Regions from separate parts of the Homo sapiens genome. Here region 2 is linked to region 1. Evidence: fine-mapped expression QTL. A gene starts in region 1. The other region holds a variant in brackets. All regions are shown on one strand. Distances are between the middles of the regions.

Region 1 (17,066 bases):
CGAGTAACTGGGACTACAGACACACGCCGCCATGACCAGCTAGTTTTTTGTATTTTAGTAGAGATGGGGTTTCACCATATTGCCCAGGCTGGTCACAAACTCCTGAGCTCACGCAATCTGCCTGCCTTGGCCTCCCAAAACGCTAGGATTACAGGCATGAGCCACCGCGCTCGGCCAAGACATCCTTTCTTTACCAATTTCTTATAGGAGAAGAGAATTCTGAATACAAGGACAAATAATGGTGTAATCTCTAAAGAGCTTTCCCCACTGTTTTCCAAATAGTACCTCTTCAACATTGCAGGCTGTTTTGGCTGAAGTTTCCATGAATATAAGTCCATGCTCCCTAGCAAAGGCCTCTCCTTCTTCTCTCTTCACATCCCTGCGGGACTCTAGGTCACTGCAAGAGATTAATTAAGGAGAAAATTTAAAAAAAAGATCCAAGTGAAAGAGGAAAGTCTATTTCTAAAAGAATTCCGTCGTGGTTTCAACTGCCAGTTATTTCATAAAGAATGTAGATCCTACATGATACTCTTATACAGAGTTACTGATTTTTGTAGCATCTTGGAAAATATTCTTTAGTTTTGGGACAGCTGCTGCATAGTTGAAGATAATACCTCACTCTATTACAGAGAAAATGGCTTATCAAGGGTTAGGCAAGCCCCCATAGTTACACAAAGCTTATGCTCTATTGCTTGTTTTTCCAATGAGATCAAGGAGAGCAAAGTATAGATGAGGAAAAAAAAAAACTTGGCTGGGCACAGTGGCTCATGCCTGTAATCCCAGCTCTTTGGGATGCCGAGGCAGGTGGATCACGAGTTCAGGAGTTCAAGACCAGCCTGGCCAAGATGGTGAAATCCCGTCTCTACTAAAAATACAAAAATTAGCTGAGTATGGTGGCAGGTGCCTGTAATCCCAGCTACTCGGGAGGCTGAGGCAAGAGAATTGCTTGAACATGGGAGGCGGAAGTTGCAGTAAACTGAGATCGCGCCATTGCACTCCAGCCTCAGCGACAGAGCAAGACTGTCTCTTGGGCGGGGAAGAAAAAAAGGAAAACTCTAGTTACTAGAAAGCAGAAAAGTCATAAGATGTCCCATCCAGCAGTGATGAGCATCTTCCTTTTTTACTGGAATCAAGCCACAAGAAGAGAATGAGCCAGGAATAAGGAAAACACAGTTGTCTTAAGTCTCACTGGTTTCGTTACTAGTGCATATAAAAGCAGCTTGCCACCAGGGAATTCAGAGACAGTGATATGGATAAAATTAGGTGAAAAAAAAGATAAGAGCTAAGGACTGAAAAAGGGAATAAAAATGGCAACAAAAGACCTTATGAAAAACAGGATAAAAGGCTGCAGAGCTGGGCGTGGTGGCTCATGCCTATAATCCCAGCACTGTGGGAGGCTGAGGCAGGAGGATTACTTGAGCCCAGGAGTTTAAGAACAGCCTGCACAATACAGTGAGACCCTGTCTCTACAAAAATTTAAAAATCAGCAGAGCGTGGTGACACATGCCTGTAGTCCCAGCTACGTGAGAGGCTGAGGTGAGAGGATCTCTTGAGCCCTGGAAACAGGTTGCCGTGAGCTGAGCACGTTACTGTACTCCAGCCTGGGCAACAGCACGAGACCTTGTCGCAAAAAAAAAACAAAACCAAAAAAACAAACTGAAGAATAAGGCAAGGTTGGGCTGTTTGTGATTCGTATTTTTCAATTTGAAAATTTTCATTTGGGAGGTTTCCAGTTTTCCAACTCCTTGGAAAAAAAGTGTAAGACCATTAAAGAACAACAAATCTACAATATTTTAATTTATTATACCATCAGCTGTGTGAAGACCAGGGAAGATCTAAATGTCAACCCTCCCAAATTTGTACCTCTAGCCCAGATGCTTGACTAAGCACCAGATTTGTACATTTGTGAATTCTTCATTTCCACACTGATACATAAAACGGACTTCAAACTTAACACATCAAAATGGAACTTCTTTTCCCCTAGCCTGTGTTTGCTGCAGGCTTCTGTATCTCAGTAAATGGCATAAGCCAAAAACCAAAGTGTTATTATTGATACCCTTTGCTCCCTACTCCAAATATCTAATCCATTCCAAAGTGAAGTACTTCCAATATGTACCTTAAAATTATCCTTTCTTTCTCTTTCCAGGGTCACTTCCTAGACCAAGCTACCATTCTTTCTCATGTGGACTATTGCAACTGGGATACTACTTCAGTCCTTGTTCTCCTCCAGAGTGATCTTTTAAAATCTGATCAAGCCACTTCTCTACTTAAAACTTTAAAATGCTTCAGGTGTATTTATTTATTATTATTTTTAATCCCCCATCTCCCAAGCTTCAATTTCCATGTATTTAGAATAAAATCCAAAACCCTTACTCAGGCCTCTAAGGTGCTATAAAATCTGGTCCCTACCTACTTTTCCAACCTCATCTTGCACTATTCCCTCTTGATTTAGTCCAATCACACTAGGTTTCTTTCAATAAACGTGTCAAGCTTCTTCCAAGTTCAAGGTGTTTGTATAGTTTGTTCCCCCCAAGTAATACCCTTTTAAAAAAATCTTTGCCCAGCAGGCTCTTGCCCATCCTTCAGATCCCAGCTTAATATCACTCCTAATCAAAAGTAGGTACCCTGTTATTCTTTCGTAGCACCCTTTTTCCTCCATTGCATTTATCACAATTTACAATTTGATACAAATAATTTTATATTTAACATCTATGCCCCCACTAGACTGTAAGCTGCACAAGAGCAGGGGGACGACTTTTTTCCACCTTGCAAACTCAGAATCTGGCACAGTCGTTTTCAATACATTGACTGATACACTAAAAATAATTAGCAGGATGGGTGTGGTGGCTCACGCCTGTAATCCCAGCACTTTGGGAGGCCGAGGCAGGCGGATCGCCTGAGGTCAGGAGTTCAAGACCAGCCTGATCAACATGGAGAAACCCCGTCTATACTAAAAATACAAAAAAATTAACTGGGCTTGGTGGCACATGCCTGTAATCCCAGCTACTCGGGAGACTGAGGCAGGAGAATCGCTTGAACCCAGGAGGTGGAGGTTGCAGTAAGACGAGATCATGCCATTGTGCTCTAGCCTGGGTGACAAGAGTGAAACTCCATCTCATAACAAACAAATGAAAACAAACAAACAAACAAAAAACCAATTAGCCTGTGGCCACAGTTCTCAAATAGTACACTCTGGGCACTACTACAAACTCACAAGGGTGCCATGGGATACCTCAAACTTTTGAGAAAAACACAGTAACACTCAACACAAGGATACTTACTACATGAATTACAAGCTTAAGACAGTTGCAATGTCAATATCAGACCATGATAAAATTCGTTCAATATCTTCATATCTCTGAGAAGCTGTTTCTGGCAGTTGCTGTTATAAAAAAGCAAGCACTACACAAAAATCAATATGAAATGGGAAATGAGAGTAGCAGTGTGCAATCGTGATTCCAAGGTTTGAGAAGCTATGCAGTGCCCAACAGACACATAGAGGTCTTTAGTAAGTAACTGTTGCTATTTAAGAATGAAATAATTTTTTTTTTTTTGAGACAAAGTCTCACTCTGTCGCCCTGGCTGGAGTGCAGTGGCACTATCTCAGCTCACTGCAACCTCCGCCTCCCGAGTTCAAGCAATTCTCCTGCCTCAAGCTCCCAAATAGCTGGGACTAGAGGTGCGTGCCACCACGCCTGGCTACTTTTTGTATTTTTTCAGTACAGACGGGGTTTCACCATATTGGCCAGGCTGGTCTTGAACTCCTGACTTTCTAATCTACCCACCTCGGCCTCCCAAAGTGCTAGGATTACGGGCTTGAGCCACCACGCCTGGCATATTTTTTCTTTTTTTTATATAGGGTCTCACTCCTGTTGCTGAGGCAGGAGTGCAGTGGTACAATTACAGCTTCATTGCAGCCTCGACCTCACAGGCCCAAGTGATCCTCCCACCTCATTTAAAAATTTTTTTGTATAAACAAGGTCTCACTATGTTGCCCAGGCTGGTCTTGAACTTATGGACTCAAGCAATCCTTCCAGAGCTGGGATTACAGGCATACGCCACTGCGCCTGGCCTTTTTATTTTCAAACAGTTACTAAGCGGTTATAAAAAATACTCATGTTGTTTGGGTATAACTATTTAACAAAACTATTAGGTATTTCTTTTGGCCTATGGGTGTCAAAAAAAATTTACTGATAATAACCAGTGTTGTTAAGGATGTAGAGAAACTGGAATCCTTGTACATTGCTGGAAAGAATGTAAAATGAGACAGCTGCTATGGAAAATGGTATGGTGGTTCTTCAAAAAATAAAAGAATTACCATATGATCCAGCAATCCCACTTCTGGGCATATACCCAAAAGAATTCAGAGCTGGGACTTGAACAGATCCATGTTCATAGCAGCATTATTCACAATAGTCAAAGGATGGCAGCAACCCAAGTGTCCATGGACAGATGGATAAACAAAATATTGTGGTATATGCATACAATGAATATTACTCATCTTTAAAAAGGAAGGAAATTCTGACACATGCTACAATATGGATAAACCTCGAAGACATTATGCTAAGTGAAATAAGCCAGTCACAAAAGCACAAATATTACATGAGTCTACTTGTATGAGGTACCAGTAGTAGTCAAATTCATAAAGTAGAATGATGGCTGTCAGGGGCTGAGGGATGAGGGGGATGGGGGAGGGAAGATGGAGAGTTAGTGTTGAATGTGTATAGAGTTTGAGAAGATGAAAAAGTTCTGGAGATGGATGTTGGTGATGGCTGTGGAACAATGGATATTCTTAATGCTACAGGACTGTATGCTTAAAAATAGTTAAAATGGTAAATTTTGTGTCATATATATTTTATCACAACAAAATTTTTTTTTTTTACTGAAACACTAAGACCACTATAAACTGAGAAAGTTTGGGGATCAATGTGCATAGAGTACCTAGATGACTCCTGTTAACTATTATTCACATGGATACAATTTTACCTCTTATTCCCAATGAGCATGATAACCATGTTGGAACTAGAGTGCTGCCGGGCATCCTCTAACCATGAGGTCAGGTGGTTGAAGGTTTCACGCCTACAGCAGAAAAATTTAGAATGTGGGTCAGAGACACATTTCAAAAGGCCAAAACAACTCCAAGCGTATACGAAAAGAGGGGAAGCCATACGTGTAAAGAAAAATATTAGAGAGGCCATTCCTAGTTAACATCCTTAACAGAATCAGTAGATAGAAAAAAAAAAAAAGCTTTAGAGGATTTAGGGAAGAATCTCCCTCCCATGCACCAGATCTGGCTCACCTTGTAATGTCGTACACCAGCAGTGCTCCAGCTGCTCCCCTGTAGTAGGAACGGGTGATAGAACGGAAGGATTCTTGCCCAGCCTTTCCCACCAACATGGCAACAAAAAATCCCAACAAAACCAGGTTATTTCCACAGAACCGACTTGATCACATGCCACCCTAATACAAAGGACTTAACTAAAAAAAGAATTTCTATTACGAAAAGAGAATTAGGGAAAGAAAACATGCCTGCCCGAGAAGAAACCCAAGTGGGAAATCAATATTTTTCTATGGGAGTGCATTGATATTTTGGGCAGTCACTTACTCTTCCTGAGAGACTGTCCATCAGATTAGTGGATGTTTAGCATCCTAGATCCCAGTCACTAAATACCTGTGGCACCCCAGTCAGCACGATAAAGACGATGAAGACATTTGCATACATTTCCCAATATCCTCATAAAAGAACAACTGGAAATAGGACTGGAAACGGAGTGTATGTCATTTTTTTCAATCCCAAATATGATATTGAACACACCATATTAATCTTTCTGTTCCCATTTCTTTATCTGTAAAAAGGAAAGTTATCTTAGAATGCCAAAACCTGGTCTAATAGAAATTTCATTCCAATGAATCAATATAAAAATTAGATTAAAAGCACTTCAACTGATTATCTTCTAACTGACCTTTAGTGTTCCACTGATAATGCAAGACTACCTAGATGTCCCTTGCTGGGCTTCTGTCATGGGAAATAGGAATAACAAACAGAGAAAGAAGCCCAGGGCCCAGCATAGAGTTTTCCTAGAAAAATCCAAATGTTCACACTCTAATCTCATTTCCAGTTGGACAAAGATATTAAGTTCTATTTAAAACTGAGTAATTTATTAATGCCCCCATAATACTGGGTACTTTTGCTTTCTTGATGGACTAGTTCTTTTTTTTTCCTTTAGGGAAAACAAAAACATTTTTTAAATAATATGAATACCCTGTACATTGAATCTATCCTATTAAGAAAGTTTTCACATTCTTGAAATAATTTATCCTTACATCCCTACATAACAGGAGGTAAGACTATAATTTATAGGTTACAAATGGGAGAATCATGATTAAGGATGTGGGAAAATAAATGGCTTTCTCATAGTATAATACCAGTAACAGTGGTAACACTAATTATAACACTGCAATAGTACTATAAACTACTTTTTGGCATATAAAATGTGCTACGAACTTTAAGAGACAATTACATATATTATTTCATTTACTTCTCTTAGCAACCCTGGGGCCGATATTATTATTCCCTTTTTTTTTTTCTTTTTTTTTTTGAGAGGGAGTCTCGCTCTGTTGCCCGGGCTGGAGTGCAGTGGCGCAATCTTGGCTCACTGCAACCTCCGCCTCCCAGGTTCAAGCAATTCTCCTTGCTTCAGCCTCCCAATTAGCTGGGATTACAGGCGCCCACCACCATGCCTGGCTAATTTTTTTGTATTTTTGGTAGAGATGGGTTTTCACTATGTTGGCTAGGCTGGTCTTGAACTCCTGACCTCATGACCCACCCGCCTCGGCCTCCCAAAGTGCTGGGATTACAGGCATGAGCCACCGTGCCTGGCTTATTATTTCCTTTTAAAAATGGGGAAAATGAGGCTCACACAAGTTTAATAAACGGCCCCAAATCATAAAGCTTATTAAGTGCTAGAGCCATAATTTAAACTTAGGATCTTAGTACTTCCTAGGACAAAAACTTGTCCTCTTAGCCACTATATCATATAACCTAAACTGGGGTTTGTAGGTGAGAAGAGAATTCCAGTATACTAACTCTAAGGTTAATTTTCCAACAACAGAAGAATCTCTTTCTATAAGAATCATAGAAACATGTGAGTGAGTTGCATAGCTGTTAGAGAATCAGAATCGGAAAATAAAAACTAATTCTGAAGTCCCCTGTCATAATACTAATAATATTTTAAGATTAAAAAAATACTTACAGTTTTATATTTACTCCCTAATGTCTTACGTTATTTGGGTCTTGTTTTCCTTTTAGCACTTACTTTTTCTCCTCTTCTGCTATGGTTGTAAGCCTCCCTCTACTTCCCTCACAGCCTACCAAGAACTAAAAGGGAAAGTTTGAGGGAGGCCCACATGATGGTTCAATCACATGGCAGCATTTATCTTTAGCAGCTGAAAATGCTATCAGTGGGTCATGAGAAAACCTTTTAAAATCAAATCACTCACCAGGCGCAGTGGCTCATGCCTGTAATCCCAGCACTTTGGGAGGCCAAGGCGGGCAGATCACGAGGTCAGGAGTTTGAGACCAGCCTGACCAACATGATGAAACCCCATCTCTGCTAAAAATACAAAAAAAAAAAAAAAAAAAAAAAAAAAAAAATAGGTGGGCGTGGTGGCGCACGCCTGTAATCCCAGCTACTCAGGAGGCTAAGGCAGGAGAACTGCTTGAGCCCGGGAGGCAGAGGCTGCAGTAAGCCAAGATGGCGCTATTGCACTCCAGCCTGGGCAACAGAGTGAGACTCTGTCTAAATTAAAAAAAAAAAAAAAATCACTCTACTTCATCTCATTCCAGTTCATGAGCCAAAGTTTGTGAACCAGTAAGCTAGAAAGAGTGAGCAGTTCAATTTGGTCTTGTCTATATCAGTCTCAGGTATCCTTGGCCATCCCCAGTAAAAAAATCTGAAGCAGCAGGCTGGGCACCGTGGGTCATGCCTATAATCCCAGCACTTTGGGAGGCCAAGGTGGGCAGATCATTTGAGCTCAGGAGTTTGAGACCAGCCTGGGCAACATGGTGAAACCACGCCTCTAAAAAAAATACAAAAAATTAGCCAGGTGTGATGGCACACATCTGTAGTCCCAGCTACTTGAGGGGCTGAGGTGGGAGGACTAGTTGAGCCGGGGAGGTTGAGGGTGCAATGAGTGGAGATGGTGCCACTGCACTCCAGCTTGGGTGACAGAGCAAGACCCTGTCAAAAAAAAAAAAAAAAGAAAAGAAAAGATGCAGCAGCAACGAACTAAGATGAAGGTTTTTTTTTCCTTTTTTTTTTTTGAGAGGGAGTCTCGCTCTGTTGCCCAGGCTGGAGTGCAGTGGCATGATCTTGGCTCACTGCAACCTCCGCCTCCCAGGTTCAAGTGATTCTCCTGCCTCAGCCTCCCCAGTAGCTGGCATTACAGGCGCCCGCCACCACACCTGGCTAATTTTTTTATTTTTAGTAGAGATGGGGTTTCACCATGTTGGCCAGGCTAGTCTCAAACTCCTGACCTCAGGTGATCCGCCTGCCTCAGCCTCCCAAAGTGCTGGAATTACAGGCATGAGCCACGACACCCGGCCTAGATGAAGGTTTGATAAGATAATTAATAGCTTTCTAATCTCTCCCAAGTGGAAGCATCATACTATATTAAGATATACAGTTTGAAGTATCAACTCCTAGAAAGTCAGATACACCATTTTCCTAAGAATCAAAATGCATTCCTTCCAATGAACGGTTTATTAAGGAAAAAAAAATTTTAATTGCATTCCAAAGTAAAATACAAACCAATTTGATATTATTTGATCAGTATTTTATATTACAGTAAAATACCTATTCATTAGCATGATTATTTAGGAATACGTGTATACACACACACACACGATTTTTTAAAATATGCTTCTCTAAATCCACATAAATGCCAGAACAAAGACAACAAAAACCTTTGGACAACCTGATCTCTTTAAAATACCTATCACAGTAATCCCTAAACATTTTCATGTAGGATGGGTTTGGAAGTAAGTGAGAGAATGGGTCAATAAAGTGGGAAGCTAAGATGGGTAAACAATGGGCAGGAGATCAGGGCTGACAACGGAGAAATGACCAGACTTACCCAAAAGGCGACAGACTAGATGGACACATTATTATACGTATGAATCTTTTAAAATTTTCAAAATATATAGAAAACCACAGTGTTCTGAAACTGGTTCCTTTTTATGATTTAGCAAATATTAATCTCAAGACAATTTTAAGAGGGAACAGAAAAGAACTAGGCCAGTTGGATGACCATGTAGTTCTTAAGGATTCTGTCCAAAGTCGTGGCTCTCAACTTTCCTTTTTTGTTTGTTTTTCTATGTATGCATTCTCAGCAGAATCAAGCTCTCAACTTTCTTACTTTCATGATCCAACCATGTCCCATATGAGTGCTTAAAAAAAAAAAAAAAAGGCCATTGCCATGACCATTCCATTAAATGGCACTTATTGGGTTTTTTTCCCCAGCATCAAAACATTCATCTGGGCCAGGTGCCAAGGCTCAGGCCTGTAATCCCAACACTTTGGGAGGCTGAGGAGGGCGGATCACTTGAGTCCAGGAATTCGAGACCAGCCTGGGAAACATGTTGAAACCCCCGTCTCTACAAAAAATACAAAAATTCCCCAGTGCAGGGGATCAGGGGATAGATCTGTAGAGATAGACGGATAGATGGATGGATAGACAGATGAACTTAAGCTTCAACTACTTTTAAGACATACACTTGCGTGTGGTGAGGAGCATTGGGGAGGGAAGGAGAGGAAAGGGAGGAAAAGAAAAAAGGAAAAATAATGTGTACACTGTTTGCAGATATAATGGCTTTAGCTCTCAGTTCAGAGAAGAAACAGAATCACATAGTAAGAAGTAAGCAAAAAAAGTAAGAGATTTTAGCCAAATATTATTTACTAGCTATTTACTAGCTCCCTTTAACTAGAATGGAGACTAAGGTATTATTTTACTTAGGGGGAAAAATGTACAAATCAAATGAGATAATGCACATGAAAGCAATTTATCTGGATAGGGCAAAACTACACTAAGCCAAGCTAAATTTTGGCATTACTACATGTATCAAATTTGAAAATATGTACAAGCTTTTGACAGAGTTTCCATTTCTGGGCAGATATTCCACAAAAATTCTCAAACATTGGCATAAAAACTTTGTAAATAAGGATGTTCAGGCTGGGCACTGTGGCTCACGCCTGTAATCCCAGCATTTTGAGAGGCCTAGGTGGGTGGATCACCTGAGGTCAGTTCAACACCGGCCTGGCCAACATGGCAAAACCCCATCTCTATTAAAAATACAAAAAACGTCCGGGAGTGGTGGCTCACACCTGTAATCCCGGCACTTTGGGAGGCTGAGGCGGGCGGATCACGAGGTCAGGAGATCGAGACCATGCTGGCTAACACGGTGAAACCCCCTCTCTACTAAAAATACAAAAAATTAGCCAGGCGTGGTGTCAGGCGCCTGTAGTCCCAGCTATTCGGGAGGCTGAGACAGGAGAATGGCACGAACCCGGGAGGCGGAGCTTGCAGTGAGCTGAGATCACGCCACTGCACTCCAGCCTGGGCAACAGAGTAAGACTCCGTCTCAGAAAAAAAATACAAAAAATACAAAAAACATTAGCCACGTGTGGTGGTGGGTGCCTGTAATCCCGGCTACTCAGGAGGCTGAGGCTGGAGAATTGCTTGAACCCAGGCGGTGGAGGTCGCGGTGAGCCAAGATTACGCCATTGCATTCCAGCCTGGGTGACAAGAGTGAATCTCTGTCTCAAAAAAAAGAATGCTCAGTGAAATTCTGCAATACTTAAAAATTGGAAAACAACCCAAATTTCTATCAGTAGGATGATGGTTACATAAATCATGCTACTGACATTCCATGACTACGCAGTGGTTAAAAGGAATGAGACAGATCTATATGTATTGATATGGAAAGGTCCCCACAACATAGAGATTGTTTAATATACAATCTAAGTCACACAACTAGGTCTACTCTGTCACGATTCTATACATGTAAACACTAATAAAAACAAAACTACTACCATATATTTCTATGTGTTTACATGTATGTATCTAAATGCATAGAAAAAGTCTGAAAGCATACACGTGGAATCATCAGTAATGATTTCCCTGCTAGAGTACCAACCAAGATGGGAAGGGAGAAAGAGTTTATGTATCAAAAGGGGACATTTACTTTCTATTCTATAAATTTATATTGTTTGATTTTATTTTTACTAGAATAAACTATTACTTGGATCGTTTACAACACAAAGATACAGCATCCAGAATTTGTAACTGTAACAGAATCAAAAACTTCTCTCTTTGATTTCACCTTTCCCCTACTTTATCCCCACCATTAGTTCCACCCTCATCGCCCCTTTCCTTTGCATCAGCTTTTCTTGTTATACTTGGATATTGGTCAGAGACTAAATTATTTTGTACTCTCACCGTATCCCAGATTTGCAGTTTGATTTGTTTTCCATCAATGTTGACCATACGAGCTCCAAACTCCACACCTGTCGGTAAAGACCGAGAGAAAGAATGTGATTCTCACGAACAGCAGCCACGTGGAGTGGGAGGTTCCTGCCTTTCCTCAATGTGTTATAACCATCCTTTGTCTGAACTCAATGCCACTAATTCCATTATTGCTGCCTATTTGCTCCAATTAATTTTGTGTTTCTTAAGGTTCTTCATTTCCCTTCTAGAATTAAAAAATTGTGCTCAATGACCTCAGGAATGTAACCAAAAAGCAGATATGGGAAAATAAAACCAATTAAGAAGTCAAATTTAAAAAGGTGAATACTTTTTTAGCAATGTTAGGTTAATGCTTAAATTTGGTTAGGTAACATTTAGTTTTGTAACTTTTCCAAAAAACTAAAAATTTTGGAAATATTTCCTGACACTTTCTCAGTCACTCTTTAGTCTCTACTTAAAACAATATTTATTTTTTTGCAATTCCAGATGTTTTTCTTTAAGAAAAGAGCCTAAGAAATAGGTTCTCAGAAACAATACTTTTTTTTTTTTTTTTTTGAGATGGAGTCTCGCTCCGTCACCCAGGCTGGAGTGCAGTGGTGCGATCTCAGCTCACTGCAGCCTCCACCTCCTGAGTTCAAGTGATTCTCCTGCCTCAGCCTCCCAAGTAAGTACCTTACAGGCACACGCCACAACGCCCACCTAATTTTTTTAACAATACATTTTACATTTCCAATAATTGCCAGAGGCACAATTAAGCATTGTTGCCTTGTTAAGCATTGTATCATTAGCCCCTATCGCAAAGTGAGAATTCGCTCAATATTCCCTTTAAAATACCTTTTAGTTGATACTGCCAAATCCTTTTCTAACCCCATCAATTATTTGACTCTAAATAAATCCGTTAGGAACAGTGGTAGCTTCAGGTTTCCATACAGGTGGGACTTGGAAGTAGCAATATGGTAAGAATGGGGATGTAGGGGTTTATTTAGAAACTGCATTTGCATGGCAAGAAAGCTAGTTTCATATATGTTGTTTATTTGGACTGGGGTTACGGAGATAACGAAGAGGGGGTAGTTAAAAGCCTCTTCAGGCCATGCCTTATCACAAACGTGTGGGAAAGGTTAATATTTTCCAGGATCGCCAGTGCGTTTGAGGAACTGTTAACACACTCTTTCATTTAAAAGGAAAGTTTTTAGTTTTATTTGCCTATTAATTCTAAGGCAGGGATGACTCCTCAATTTGCTTCTTCACCAATATAAAAAATGTCCATGTATTGGTGTTTACTTTTTAAAAGTAAGGCTGGTATTAATTTACCTCAAAGCACAGATGAGTTCATAAATAAGCAGTTATGCTTTCGTGGGATTTTCCATAAACATACAAATTGTATTTGAAAAAAAATTATATGACGAGTCTATACCTCACACTCTAAAAAGTTACCTTTCAATTATATACTCTCCCTTACACTACTCCCCACATATCAACGTTTCATTGGTCACTTCATTAACATAAGTTTGGACTAGTTTAAAGTAGTGAGGGGTAACTTTTTACTTCGAACACTGAAGGCTGCTAACTTTCCACTTTAGCAATTTAGCTAGTCAGGTTTTATCATCTGTTCTGGAACAAGTAGATGCACTTACCTATTGTGAGGTCGTGGACAGGCTGGAACCGCTTATCTGTAAACTGCAGGAGGAGACATGACTTCCCCACACCTGAAAGAGAAAGCACACTCCCGGAATCACGCAGCCCTGGAACACCTTCCAGAGTATGGACTTCCCGGACCAGAGAAGGGGGGCTCCCGAGCCCCGCCCCCGGCCGCCCCGAACCGCCCCGCCCGTCTCGAATCGCCCAGCCCACAAAGTGAGCCCCGCCCCCGCCACCCAATTTGGGAGCTTCGAATGCCCGCCCGAGCCTTGAAGGCGAACCACCTGAGGGTTACCTGTGTCTCCGATGATGATATACTTGAAGAGATAAGCATAAGTCATGGTGTCGCGTCCTCTGGGTTCCGGGTCCGCCCGACTTCTATAGCCACTTACCTCCGACCTCTCTAGCCACTCAATCTACCGATCTTCTTCTTCTCCCCCTTCCCCCCGCTCCCCCGCCCCTCCGGCTCCTCTAGCCCAGATCACGTCTCTATTGCACTCCCCGGAATCATCCTTAGGTCGGGAGTACCCTACGCCACCTCCAGGGACGCTTCTAGCACTTCTACATGCCCTTATCCCTCCAAACTCCAGGGGGCGATAGCCCAGCGCCTGACTCTCTGCAGCCCCACGGCGCTCCTTCCAATCAGCAGAGAGAACACACGTCCTTGCGGAAGTGACGGCAGTTCCGAGTCCAGTGGGGGCGGTGGGAGCGATGAGGGTCTGAGACGGTGGGAGCGGTTGTGTGAAGATGGAGGTAGGAACCTGATAGCTAAGAAGGCTGGCGAGAGAACGCGGCCGACCGGGTTGAAGCAGGGACGGGAAGCCGGGCGGAGAGGCGACTGACGGGAGAGGAGAGAGAGCGGGGTTTGGGGAGTGTTGTCAGAATGTCAGGGTCAAAAGCCATCGCTCCAAGCTGACTCCCTGCTCCCCCTAACTTATCCCCGCGACTTTCTTTTGGTTTCCAGTTTCCCGGAGGAAATGACAATTACCTGACGATCACAGGGCCTTCGCACCCCTTCCTGTCAGGGGCCGAGGTGAGCCAGAGCTGCCGACGCCGCGGGGGTAGGGCCTGAGGCAGCGGTGGGGTAGGGTAGTGGGGAGGAGAGCACGGACTCCGGGGACGGGGGCTGGGAACCAAGGGCCGCAATTGGTGTTTAGAGAAAAGTGGCGGTTGCTTCTAGAGCCTGTGGGGACTATCTGGGGAAGTCTTGGGAAGTTGCTGTCATCAGAAAGCAAGGTATTGGAAAGAGATAACCTGTTTAAAGAGAAAAGGGATTCTGGATTAGAAGACAGAGTGGAATTGTCTCCTTTCTCTGGGGAGAAATAGCTACAGTAATCTTAGGGGATCGCAGTGGAAAGAAAATGTTTCAGCAGCTGAAGAAATTGGGGTTGAGGGGAGGAGCTTATTGGTTTTCTTTTGTTTTGAGACAGAGTCTCGCTTTATCGCCCAGGTTGAAGTGCAGTGGTGCGATCTCGGCTCACTGCAACCTCTGTCTCCTGGGTTCAAGCGATTCTCCTGCCTCAGCCTCCCGAGTAGCTGGGATTACAGGCGTGCGCCACCACGCTCGGCTAATTTTTGTATATTTAGTAGAGATGGCAGTTTCACCATATTGGCCAGGCTGGTTTCGAACTCCTGACCTCAGGTGATCCACCCACCTCGGCCTCCCGGAGTGCTGGGATTACAGGCCTGAGCCATTGCGCCCGGCCTAAATTTCCTACTTTGATAAAAAATTTGTGGTTACCTTTACCTACATGGTGTCAGCTTGTTTTGCTAATGTCAGGAGGAAAGGAAATAGCTGCTAGAGAATATAAAAGAGTTGAGTAGGACATGTGTTTCAATTTGCCAGTGACTCAGACGTTGGGCACATTACTTCATCTTTGTATGTCACAGTTTCCCCAGCTGTCAAACAGCTGTAATTATAGTTTCTTATGCTGTTTTAAAGTAGAAGTAAAGGTTATGATGAAACCCTGAAGTGTTCGTTAAAAAAGTTTGGTTGAAATATTGTCATAATATAGATATGTATCACTTGTTTGGGAGAGGCAAAAGAGAATGGTGGAACAGACAAAAATTTCTGTCTTTGAGAAACTGAAGTCTTGAACCATCTGCCATTTTTTGAGGACTTTTATATTTATTTTCAAAAGTGGTGTGGACCATTTGCATCAGTTTTTTTTACCAAGAATTGTCAGTGGCTGTTGCATGGGCTTATCCTATAATCCTAACGTTTTCATGGATGAAAATGGGGTTGACAAGGGCCAGTTGCTAGTTTAACTTTTTTTTTCTTTCTTTTTTTTTTTGAGACAGTCTCCCTGTAGCCCAGGCTGGAGTGCAGTAGCACGATCTTGGCTCACTGCAGCCTCCACCTCCTGGGCTCAAGTGATTCTCCTGCCTCAACCTCCCAAGTAGCTGGGAATACAGGTGTGCGCCACCACACCCAGCTAATTTTTTTTTTTTTTTTGAATTTTTGTAGAGACGGGGTTTCACCCTGTTACCCAGGCTCTTTAACTCCTGGCCTCAAGTGATCTGCCCGCCTCAGCCTCCTAAAGTGCTAGGATTACAGGCATGAGCCAATGTGCCCAGTGCCAGTTTAACTTTTTTGTTGCTTTTATTTATTATTCTCATAAGCAGGATAAGTGTGAATCTAGTATGCAGCAAACTTTGAAATGATATAAAACCTAAATCTGGGCCCAGCACAGTAGCTCGTGCCAGTAATCCCAACTGTTTGGGAGGCTGAGGCAGGAGAATTGCATGAGCCCAAGAGTTCTAGACCAGCTTGGGCAACGTGATCAAACTCTGTCTCTATAAAAGATAATAATAATTAATTTTAAAAAAACAGGTGAGGCGGGGTGCGGTGGCTCATGCCTGTAATCCCAGCACTTTGGGAGGCCAAGGAGGGCGGATCACGAGGTCAGGAGTTCGAGACCAGCCTGACCAACATGTGAAACCCCATCTCTACTAAAAATACAAAAATTAGCCGGGTGTGGTGGTGCGCGCCTGTAATCCCAGATACTCAGGAGGCTGAGGCAGGAGAATCGCTTGAACCTGGGAGGCAGAGGTTGCAGTGAGCCGAGATTGCGCCATTGTACTCCAGCCTAGGTGAACGAGTGAGACTCCATCTCAAACAAACAAACAAAAACAGCTAAAATCTGCTTGGTGCTTTGCACTCTTAGTTGCCATTTTCTTCTAAGTGAGATCTTCATTTTTAAATTTCATTATTTGAGTGTTGCAAATCTCACATTGGACTTACCTGCATGAAATTCCCAATTTCTCCTCAATCAGGTCTCCACAGTTTAAATTTTGTTATTTAGAGTGTTATAAATTTTACGTTGGCCTCGTTCATGAGAAAGTGCATTTTAAAATTAAATACAAGTAGCTTTCAAGTTTACCCACTGTTCTTAATTCTCTACCCCATTTATGAAGTTGAACAATCAAGAGGTAGCCACATTTAAAAAAGTGGTTCCTTTTTGCTTTTGCTTTTGTTTTTAATAGAGACAGGATCTCACCATGTTGTCCAGGCTGGTCTCAAATTCCTAGGCTCAAGCGATCCTCCCACCTTGGCCTCCCAAAGTACTAGTATTGTAGGTGTGAGCCACCATGCCAGGACAGAAGTGGTTCCTTTTCACATCAAGAAACTTCCCATGAAGAATCATGGTGTATAGTGAAGAAAAGTAAATTTAAAGTATTAACAAGTAATATTATAATAAAAAAGAAAGAAACTTTCCAGGTTTGAATCTGTCCTTTGTTTTTGTTTTTGTGACTTAAGAAATCTTATTTTATTTTGCCAAGAAACTGATAGCTAAGTTTTAGGCTCAATTTCAGTAGCTTCCTTTGCCTAAGGCTCCTGTCATTGTTAACAGTTCTCCATTTTCTCATTACAACTTCTACACCTTCCCTTTCCCTTGGTAGCG
Region 2 (10,912 bases), 64 kb before region 1:
AGAAAACGTTTGCTGATTCCCTGACCTAACTGCCACCCTTAACTAAGGAAACAATTCCAAACTCTGTGAAAGGTCTTTCTAAAAGATCCTATTCTTGTTGAAAAATCTCCCAAGTTAGGTAGTTAGTCCCTAAGACAATGAATTCCTTTACCTGCAGGTCATTTTGTGGATTCCAGTCTGAATCAAAGATGATGCAGGTATCAGCAGCTGTAAGATTAATACCAAGTCCACCAGCCCGGGTACACAGTAAGAAGACAAAGCGGTCTGAGTCAGGCTTGCTGAAGCGGTCAATGGCAGCCTGTCGAAGGTTGCCTCTAACTCGCCCATCAATACGTTCATATAAGTACCTGTATGGGAATCGCAGAAAAAAAATGTAAGTGGCTAAGCAGAAGTGGAGACCAAAACAGCAGGCTAGGATCAATACCAGTACTCCCATATCAAAGCTGGTCAAAAACCCAAGTTGAGAGTGAGAATCTTAAAAACTTCTCTTATTGCAATTGGTGAACTCTAATTAAATCCAGGCCCTCCTACTTTTTGCTGCTTTATGAGGACAGAGTAACCACAGGCTAGGATGACTCTTTTCTTACCTCCTCTGGATTAAATAATCCTCTAGGATGTCTAGGCAGCGCACCATCTGAGAGAAGATCAGAACTTTATGGCCACCAGCTTTAAGCTTTGGAAGCAACTTGTCAATAAGAACCAGTTTGCCGGCTGAACGAACCATGGCCTGCAGGTGAAAGTCATGAGGTATAATATGGCAAGCTTCACGGAATTCTGTTAGGATTTTTTCTTCAGCACCTGCCAAAAGAAAAATCAAATTATGTTGAGATCCAGTGAACCATATTAAGGTTGTAGTCTATTTAACTAAGAAAGCAAAAGGAAAAAAATGTAATTTGACTTAAGACCAACATTTCTCACACACAGAATTTCAGCACAAAAAAGTCTTAAATCGGCTGGGTACGGTGGCTCATGCCTGTAATCCCAACACTTTGGGAGGCCGAGGCAGGTGGATCACTTGAGGTCAGGAGTTCGAGACCAGTCTGGCCAACATGGTGAAACCCCGTCTCTACTAACAATACAAAAATTAGCCAGGTGTGGTGGCGGAGGCCTGTAGTTCCAGCTACTCAGGAGGCTGAGGCAGGAGAATCGCTTGAATTCGGGAGGTGGTGGTTGCAGTGAGCTGAGATTGCGCCACTGCACTCCAGCCTGGGTGACAGAGCGAGACTCCACCTTAAAAAAAAAAAAAAATCAGCCGGGTTCAGTGGTTCACGCCTGTAATCCCAGCACTTTGGGAGACCGAAGCGGGCAGATCACCTGAGGTCAGAAGTTCGAGACCAGCCTGCCCCATGTGGCGAAACCCTGTCTCTACTAAAAATACAAAAAATTAGCTGGGTGTGGTAGCAGGCGCCTGTAATCCCAGCTACTTGGGAGGCTGAGGCAGGAGAATTGCTTGAACCTGGGAGGCAGAGTTGCAGTGAGCCGAGATTGCACCACTGTACTCCAGCCTGGGCGACAATAGTGAAACTCCATCTTAAAAAAAAAAAAAAAAAAAAAACTTAAATCATCCTCAGATGTGTCATACAAAATACACTAAGTAAGGCAGGCCTATGATAACTGGGTTAAAAAAAGATGTAAATATGTGGACAAGGACTAAGATGGAACACACTATCAGCACCCAAAAGAGACAGAAACAGCAAAATGGAGTGTCGATGAGGACATTTATCCAAGGAACAGAGTAACCTAAGAGTGTTTTTTCTGAGACAGGGCTAGCTTCAAACTCATGGGCTCAACCGATCTTCCTGCCTCAGCCTCCTAAGTAGCTGGGACTACAGGTACATGCCACTGTGTGGCTAATCTGAGTTCTTCTTCATGCAATTCTAAACAGCAAATCCTATTTAATCTTGGAGATTATGTAGGATCAAAGGGGTAGAAAGAACTACAGAAAAACATTCCAAATAAGAATTGTTTTTATTTACTTTATTTGGAGACAGGGTCTCACTCTGTCACCCAGGCTGGAGTGCAGTGGTGTGATCTCGGCTCACTGCAACCTCTGCCTTCTGGGTTCAAGCAATCCTCCAAGCTCAGTCTCCAAAGTAGCTAGAACCACAGATGCCTGCCATCACACCTGGCTAATTTTTGTATTTTTTGTAGAGGTGGGATTTCATCATGTTGCCCAGGCTTAGAGTCTCTTTTTTAAAAGGAGAACCATTTCCCTCCCATTCCTCAGTCCGCACCCCAAATTAGGTTGGTTGAGTCAATGCATCCATTGTCCCCAAGGAGAATCATCCGGAAAGTAAACACAGGTACTACAGAAGTTCAGGTATATACCAAGCATTCCCTCACCATTGATGAGATATGGGTGGTTGCAGCACTTGCGCAACTCCATCATTGTGTTAAGTAGATTAGGCATGTTGGTATGACCTGCCCCTTTGGAAAGGAAGGAGAAATTCTTCTCCAAAATAGCCCGATAGTATTTCTTCTGGATATTAGTCAGCTCTACTTCAATAATTGTTTCCTGTTTGGGTGCCAAGTTTTTTTCAACATCCTCTTTGAGTCTTCTCAGCATCATTGGCTTAAGAATGGCCTGTAGCTTTTGAACCTGTGGTCCATTACAGAGAGAAAAATAAATCAATAAGATGAGGGCGAACATTCTCACATTATGTAGAAACATGGAAAAATTAGAGTTTTCCACTATCTAAGAAATGTATACTTTGGATGATGCCACAAATGATGTAGGCACAAGGTTATAAGGAGTTCAGAAAGGCCCTTGAGATACCCATGACAACAGATGTCTGCCTTGTACAAACTTCACCTTCTTTGTCCTGAGTTAGTACCTCATCAGATAGATTTCCTACCTGTTCCTCTGTCTTGAGATCCCCAAAGTCCTTGAGAAACTCTGATTCTGAGGGAAATTGTGACGGTTCCAAGAAATGAAGCAAGCTAAACAGTTCTTCTACAGTATTTTGCAATGGTGTTCCTGTGAGTAGCACCTTGTGTTCCTAGAAATGGAGGAAACAAAAGAATAAAATTTAAAAACATGAAGGACTTCTGGGGTTTCCTATCAAGTATATAATCTTTAACATATATAACCTTTAATTTCTTTATCTATAAAATGATGAGAATGGACCAGTGATCTGGTCCATTAATTTTTCTTCCATTTGTCCCCTCTTTCGATAAACACAAAGCATTCAAGAAATCCCTCTGACATTAATGTATTGAAATAACATAAATATTATAAGCAAATTAAAAAACAGTAATTCTGATTATGTTTATTCCAATTACACATGTCTCTCCATATTCAACTCCCCACAGATATCCTAAAATCTGCTGTCCTCTATGGAATGTAACTGAGCTGGATTAAATATGGTCATTAATTTGCTGCTGTTCCTCCTAACAAGGTTCACCCCTAGGCTTGCCTTATTACTTGCAAGAACAAGAATGTAGCAAAAGTGACACTGTGTGAGTTTCAGAGCCTATCTCAAAGGTTACTGTTTCTACTTTTGCCCTCTTGGAATACTGCCCTGAGACTACCACACAAAGCAGCCCAATCTGGCCTATGGAGGATGAGAGGCCATGTGGAACCCAGGTGCTCCAGATAAAAACCAGCATCAACTGCCAGCTGCAGCAATACTGACTCCAGGCAAGATCATCATAAGAACCAACTAGCTGAACTCAGCCTAAGTGGTTGAGCTAGAAGATCATGAAAAATATAGTTGTTGTAGGACATTAAGTTTTGGAGTATTTTGTTATGCAGTAATAATAGGTAACCAATATAGTTTCCCACCTCCTCTTCTGGTTATCACTAAACTTCCCAATTCTAAAATGTATGACTTTTACACGACTTTCAGGTTACCATTCCCATAGGTCATCCCCACTGTTCAATACCACGATTCAGACTTTTCTTCTCTGCTAAACTAGGGTTATTTTAATACCGCAAGGAATTACGGTTTATTCCAGGTGTTTCTGCTCACAAGTCAGTGTGGAACTCACCAGGTCCATGTGCTTGAGACTATCAAGCAGCTTGCAATTACGGTTTTTCAGTCGATGGGCTTCATCAATGATAACACAACGCCATTCAATTTCACGAAGCTCAGGACAATCTGACAAAATCATCTCAAAAGTGGTGATCAGAGCGTCAAACTTGTATGCGCCTGGGATGAGGCGTCCCTAAGCATGAAGGCAGTAAAGTCAGAAAAAACCAAAAATGTACCTAAATGAGGAGCTTTTCTGAATTACTTGCCTATATTAAGGCATGTTTAATAGGCAATACAAACTGCACCACCACCCACCTCCACCGCTGTTTATCTTCCTGAAAAATAGTGCCATATCACTGAATGTAAGATACATTGCTTCCTCAACATATTCAGCTTCTTGGGAAAATGACAGACTCACTGAATGAGAGGCTAGACATTTTTTACTCTGCTGTATGCCTAGCTCATGTATCTCTGCCCCAGATCTTTTGTTGATTAACAATGAAATCCACAACTGCTGGACAATGCTGAACCATACAAGATAATAAAAATGAAAATAGCTAATACAGAACATAATATTGGCTGATGTCTAAAAATTGACAAAAGAATGAAATCATTTTAACAAAATTAAAAGCTGCAAAATATGATGAAAAGATGTGATTTGGTAGAAATAAAAAAAAGAAAACTAATAGAGAAACAATAAAATTCATGTTAATACACGATGGATAATTCCAATTTTGTTTTCAAATTTACATGGAAAAAGGAACTGATCCTTTTTTTTTCTTTTTTTGAGACACAGTCTCACTCTGTCACCCAGGATGGAGTGCAGTGTGACGATCTCGGCTCACTGCAGCCTTCGCCTCCTGGTTTCAAGCGATTCTCCTGCCTCAGCCTCCTGAATAGCTGGGATTACAGGTGCCCACCACCACACCTGGCTAATTTTTATATCTTTAGTAGAGATGGGGTTTCACCATGTTGGCCAGGCTGGTCTAGAACTCCCGGCCTCAGGTAATAAGCCCACCTCGGCCTCCCAAAGTGCTAGGATTACAGGCATGAGCCACCACGCCCGACCATTTAGAAAAAGAAACTGATCTTGATGAAAATTTCCGTAGACTAAAAAGAGGAAAAGAAATAAGCTCACCACCGCATGGATTAAGTGGCTAAAGGAATTTAATTTTTGTAAAATACTGTGATTAAAATTCATTGATGCTGACAAAATTCTACTTAAAATGTGTATGTTCATAAATAAAATCAGAACTTCTACCAGATCAAATGTCTACTAGGTAAAAAAAATAGCAAAGTCAAAAAAATGCCCTGCACACTGCTATACAAAAATGCCTTAAACCATAGGCATTTTTGCATAGGCATATTGAAGACTTTCAATAAAAGTCTTCTATTCATATATAGCCCTTAAAATACCAGGTACCTTGGCCGACTTTCTCTAACTCATAGTATTCCCAAGACATGCAACTCACCCGTGAATCTTTGCAGTACATTTCATACTGTTGAATCATCTGCCTGCTGGCCAGACTGCCATGGTACACAATAGTGTTCATTTCTGTCCATGTATTAAATTCTCGCTCCCAGTTAGTAATTGTGGACAGTGGGGCAATGACCAAGAAGGGACCATGGATGCCCACATTATATACTTCCTGCAAGAAGGCAATGGACTGAATAGTTTTGCCCAATCCCATCTCATCAGCCAGGATGCAGTTCTGCCTGCAGATTCACCATGGGAAAAAAAAAATGTTAAAAGATACTATCTTTAAAAAAAATAGAGTATGTAGGAAGAAATTGTTTCAATAGAAAACAAATAAAAATAATCCCAGAACTAAGCTTACATCTTATGGCCCATTCTTTCCTTTACCTGTTATACCAATTAAAGAGCAGCCAATTAACCCCTTCCAACTGATATTCCCGTAGCTGGTTTCTGTTTTTATATTCATGTGATAGCTCCAATTTCTTCCAGGCACTTGCCTGCGGACGATTCTAAAAAACAAGACGTTTGAATAAATGGAGTGGAGACATTATCAAAAGGTAAGACTTACTAGGTAAGTTCTAATAGTTAAAATCAATTCAAAACAACATTGTTTGGATTAAAACATGTCAAATATATTTAAATTTATGAGTTCATAACGTTACTTTATGGGTCCATAATGATCACAAATGGCTGACAACATCACAAAACACAACCTGATGGAAGGACACACCACCATCTATGAAGCAGTTACTGGCTTCCCTCTCTCATCTGATCAAGCCTGTAGAACAGTGATGTCTAATAGAGCTTTCTACAACATTAAAAATAAAAAAACAAACAAAAAAACACGGCTAGTGGCTACTGTATTAGACAGCACAGCTCTAAAATGTTTTATTGGACAGTGTAGCTCTAAACCTAAGCATTCATGTGAAACATAAGGGACAGAGAACATGTAAAAAAGTACCAAGGGTAATCAGCAAACTTCAGCCTATGGAAAATCCTACAAAACAAATCACCTGATTTCTTCATGAGAAAATTATAACGGAGGGAGAGGAGGAGATTAAGGGGGAGCTTAAAAGAAACTTGAGACATATTAACTGATAGCAATATATGGACCTTACTGAGAACCAAATTTAAATGATTTAACAAAAATTAGAAGACAATCAGGGAAATGTATGCAATGA[T/C]TGGTACCAATGACTTGATGATATTAAAGAATGATTAAATTTTTTAGGTGTAATAATGGTATTATTTCTTTTAGGCAAAAACACTGTAATATTTACAGATGAAATAAATGAATCTGGGATTTGATTTAAAATAACCTGGGAAACAGGAATTAATGGGTAGGAAAATATATGACACAAGACTGGATATGTACTGATAATTGTTACGTGGGTGATGGGTACATTATACCATTTCTTCGATTTTTATATGTTTGAAATTTCCATAATAAAAAGCTAAAACAACAAAAAATTTCATAGGGGAAAAAATTTAATCATTTCTTATGTAGGCCTTTATACTTTAATGCAAATGTACTTACCACCCTTTTGAGTTCTGGGTGCCTTGACTGAATCCGTTTAAATTCTCGAATCTTGCCCTCATCAACATCTTCTTTTAGCTCCCATGTGCTATCCTCATAGGGCAGAGAGCACCATTTCACCAGGTAGTAAATAACGGGCTAGGAGAGAAGAAACCAAAGCCTTAAGAAACTGATTCTGTGTTCTCTGCTCCAGTTAAAGAATAAAAATTTGATTGTAAAATCAGATCACAAAGTATCAGTACCTAGAAGCCGTTGAAAAAGTCAGGCCAAACACATCGACCAAAAGTTCACCTTCTGATGCACTATATGGCTTTGATCATTCTTCAAAGCAATTTATCAGAATCTGTTCTAAAAGGAAAATTTCTACCCACTAGTTTCTATCACACTAAGCACTAAAACATGCTCGTCAACTAAACAGATGAAAAAAAAAAGACTAATCTTTTCCTATACCATGTTGAAATTAAAAGATATGTTTCTGTGCCATACTATTCTCCTGGAGCCAAATTTGACACAGTGGCAGCTAGGCTACCTTTAGGATGAGGACTATCAGCTTATACTGGCTTCTGGGCCCCTAGAGCTCATTGCAGATGCACCTCAAGAGCACTTACATGGTGATAAAGAAATGTCCTTGTGAGCCCCAGGAAGCTAGGAGCTAACAAGAGGTTATCACCAAAAAGAGGTACTAAGAGTAAAGAAGGAAGAGAAAATGCTAAAAAGTTCAACTACAGTAAGTACTAGTTTATGTAGGTATTCCACTGAAAGTGAAGGGGCAGTGACCAATGGTAAATGGCTCCTATTTTCACTATTCAAGATGATCACTGCACTTACTGCATCTCCATTTTTGGCTTATGAAGTATAAAGCAAGGATTAGATTGGGCCTAGTGTAATCAACAAGAATCTCTAATTATCAATTCATAGAAAACTTAAAATAGCCAACAAAATATGTGAAAGTGCCTCAAGGTAGTCACAGATCTCGAATCTCTGGAATTGATCCAGCTGCTTGCTCTTTTACCTTTTTCTTTATCATAGTAACTCAGGTCACTCTCTATATAAAGCCATTTGTCCAGGTCACATATTTCCAGCATAATATCTATTTATTTCCACCATTAGGTAATATAAAATGGATGACAAACTTATTTTGCAGAGGTGGGGAAAATGGGTATATAGAATAGTATTAGCCAATACTGGGAGCATAAATTATAGTATTAGAGTATGAAAACATTATCATCTGTCACGTCATTTGCAAGACATTCCAAAGGGGCCTAACTAAAGGCCAATTGCTTTTAGAAGGGTAGGTATGATTAAAAGCATAAGACTGTCAAGGCTGGAAAGGCTGAGATCCTGAAAAATGATAAGAATTTAAGAGTAGCTAACAACCTGCCCTAAAACCCGGCCCATTCTCCATTCAACTCACACAAACAAACACACAATACTACCACCCCAACTTCAAAAGCAGAATACGTTATGTGAAGCATGCTTGTTAGGATTTAAAGACAATGAATTCTACCGTGTCCTGGATATCTAAGATTCTGAGGCTCTGAGTGAACCTGAAGACTTATAAAGTAGAATAAACTTCGGAATTTTATAGAGGAAAGAATTTAACTCAGAGGTCCTGTTAGAATGATGTATGGGAGGATCAAGTCACTTGAAAAAGTCATGAAAAAGCCCAGCTCACCCACTGAACATTAACATCTTAAAAAGGCTCTGCTGTTCTCTACTGGTCACTGTATAAAGTGTCAGATGTGATAGAAATTTTCTTTATGATCCTGCTAAGCTAAACCAAAAAGTGCTACTGGAAGGAAAAATATAAAGTGACAAATTCTAAGAAAATGATGGTTTATAGCCTAAAAAAAAATTAGAAGTAAATTTAAAAGAAAGCTGAATTCACTGGTGGCTAAGACCTAGATGACCATTTGAAAATGAAAAAGGTGCCAGGCGTAGGCGGCTCACGCCCGTAATCCCAGCACTTTGGGAGGCCGAGGCAGGGAGATCACTTGAGGTCAGGAGTTCGAGACTAAGCCTGGCTAACATGGTGAAACCCTGTCTGTACTAGAAATTTAAAAACTAGCCGGGCATGATGGCACACGCTTGCAGTCCCAGCTATTCAGGAGGCTGAGGCATGAGAATTACTTGAATCTGGGAGGCGGAGGTTGCAATGAGCCAAGATCACACCATTGCACCCCAACCTGGGTGACAGAGTGAAGATGGTCTCAAAAAAAAACCAAAAAAAAAGAAAAAGAAAAAAGAGAAAAATAAACTAATTAAAATACAGATTCAAATGTAGATCTGCTTTTTTGTTTGTTTGTTTTTTTTAGACGGAGTCTCACTCTGTTGCCCAGGAATGGAGTGCAATGGCATGATCTTGGCTCTCCACAACTTTTGCCTCCCGGGTTCAAGCGATTCTCCTGCCTCAGCCTCCCGAGTAGCTGGGACTATAGGCACGTGCCACCACACCTGGCTAATTTTTGTATTTTTAGTAGAGACGGGGTTTCACTATGTTGGCCAAGCTGGTCTCAAACTCCCAACCTCGTGATCTGCCCACCTCAGCCTCCCAAAGTGCTGGGATTACAGGTGTGGGCCACCGCGCCTGGCCAGCAGATCTGTTTTAATGACAAATGAAGAGACATTTAACTAATGGTGAGTTCAGGAAGTAGCCCATTCTCAAGAACATGATTTGTAGAAAGCTAGGAGCGAGCCTGTAGAAGTATTTTTATATTCACAAATTTAGGAATTTGTGAAGTATCCCTTTCCCCTTCCCAACACCCCACCTCCAACTGTATGTCAAGAGTCTCCCATTTAAAATATGAGGAAAAATGAGACCAAGATGAATGACTTTTCAGTACTTAGCCTCTACATGTCTGACTTTACAGAAATCTTTCCTTTTAGCATCTCTCCCTACACTCTTACCTCCCATTATCTTTCAAAGGATTCCACAGAAAAATTTAGAAATACCTTTTCAGTCCAAGGGATTCTGCATCCATACCCGAAAAATAAAGGATTGGCAAACCCACCAGCAGAAATCTAAGAGGATGTTCACGTTACTCCATGCCTCAACAACTCACCTCCCCATTGTCCTTGTCAATACTGTGAGACTCATCCAATATCCTATCCACCTCTACGTAGTCTGGATTAAAGGGCTCTTCATCCTAGATGAGTTAGGAAACCAAACAATAAGACCAAAAGATCACTGTCCAGTAAACCCACTCCTCTACCTCACCTTTAGCAGAGAATCCTACTTCAAAATTTTTAAAGAAATTAGAAGCTATCCGATGGGTGTTCTCCTTTTTCATAACAGCAAATCCTATGAATTTACCAGGGTCTATACCTGACTTCTCACCTGCTACCAGTGAGTGTCTCTTTCTAACAGAGGTCCTTCTCTCCATATATGCTCTGCTGTTCATTGCTTCTTGTATTCTTAGGAATCCCTCTACCGAGTCATTGCCATAAATACACGTATATGTTCCACATTTCACATTTTAAAATAAGACCTCTTTTTATTCTACAACTCCCGCAACTATTTTTCTACTCTGCTTTATACCTAAACCTTTTTTTTTTTTTTTTTGAGGTAGAGCCTTGCTCTGTCATCCAGGCTGGAGTGCAGTAGAGCGATCTTGGCTCACTGCAACCTCCACCTCCTACGTTCAAGTGATTCTCCTGCTTCAGCCTCCCGAGTAGCTGGGATTACAGGTGCCCGCCACTATGACCGGCTAATTTTTGTATTTTTAGTAGAGACGGGGTTTCACCGTGTTGGCCATGCTAGTCTCAAACTCCTAACTTCAAGTGATCTGCCTGCCTTGGCCTCCTGAAGCGCTGGGATTACAAGCATGAGCCACTGCGCCCGGCCCCATACCTAAACTTTTTCAAGGGTTTAAACACATGCTATTTCCATTCCTTCATCTCTTTCACTTGTCCATCCATTCCACTTTT

Which allele goes with the higher level. Positions count from the first base shown, and alleles are read on the strand shown. Sizes are in standard deviations (SD) of each study's normalised expression.
In carriers of allele T in region 2, the expression in CD4 T cells of the gene that starts at base 13,825 in region 1 tends to be lower than with C alone (large effect, 1.5 SD a copy in BLUEPRINT).

Evidence for each region. PIP is the estimated chance that this variant, and not a neighbour inherited with it, causes the effect. A credible set is the group of variants that fine-mapping cannot tell apart.
Region 2: its variant is the best candidate, but not a certain one, in a credible set for the expression of TOX4 in CD4 T cells (BLUEPRINT, PIP 0.90).

The regions. Positions count from the first base shown.
Region 1 is chr14:21,463,371-21,480,436 of GRCh38, forward strand. TOX4 (TOX high mobility group box family member 4) reads left to right here and starts at 13,825. Exons shown (of 9, transcript NM_014828.4): 1 at 13,825-13,914; 2 at 14,126-14,194. The coding sequence starts at 13,909. RAB2B (RAB2B, member RAS oncogene family) reads right to left here and starts at 13,589. Exons shown (of 8, transcript NM_032846.4): 1 at 13,457-13,589; 2 at 13,158-13,229; 3 at 11,497-11,564; 4 at 5,300-5,382; 5 at 4,987-5,079; 6 at 286-397. The coding sequence starts at 13,502. It overlaps LOC124903283 (a long non-coding RNA gene), which reads left to right. Exons shown (of 2, transcript XR_007064064.1): 2 at 2,147-2,500. RefSeq lists enhancers at 13,006-13,125, 13,706-13,775.
Region 2 is chr14:21,402,866-21,413,777 of GRCh38, forward strand. It overlaps CHD8 (chromodomain helicase DNA binding protein 8), which reads right to left. Exons shown (of 38, transcript NM_001170629.2): 10 at 10,048-10,131; 11 at 6,986-7,123; 12 at 5,839-5,960; 13 at 5,447-5,690; 14 at 3,991-4,167; 15 at 2,856-2,999; 16 at 2,344-2,599; 17 at 588-798; 18 at 152-347. Among named protein-coding and RNA genes, the nearest start is that of SNORD8, 11 kb to the left of the region's middle. The variant T/C (reference allele first, on the strand shown) is at 6,633.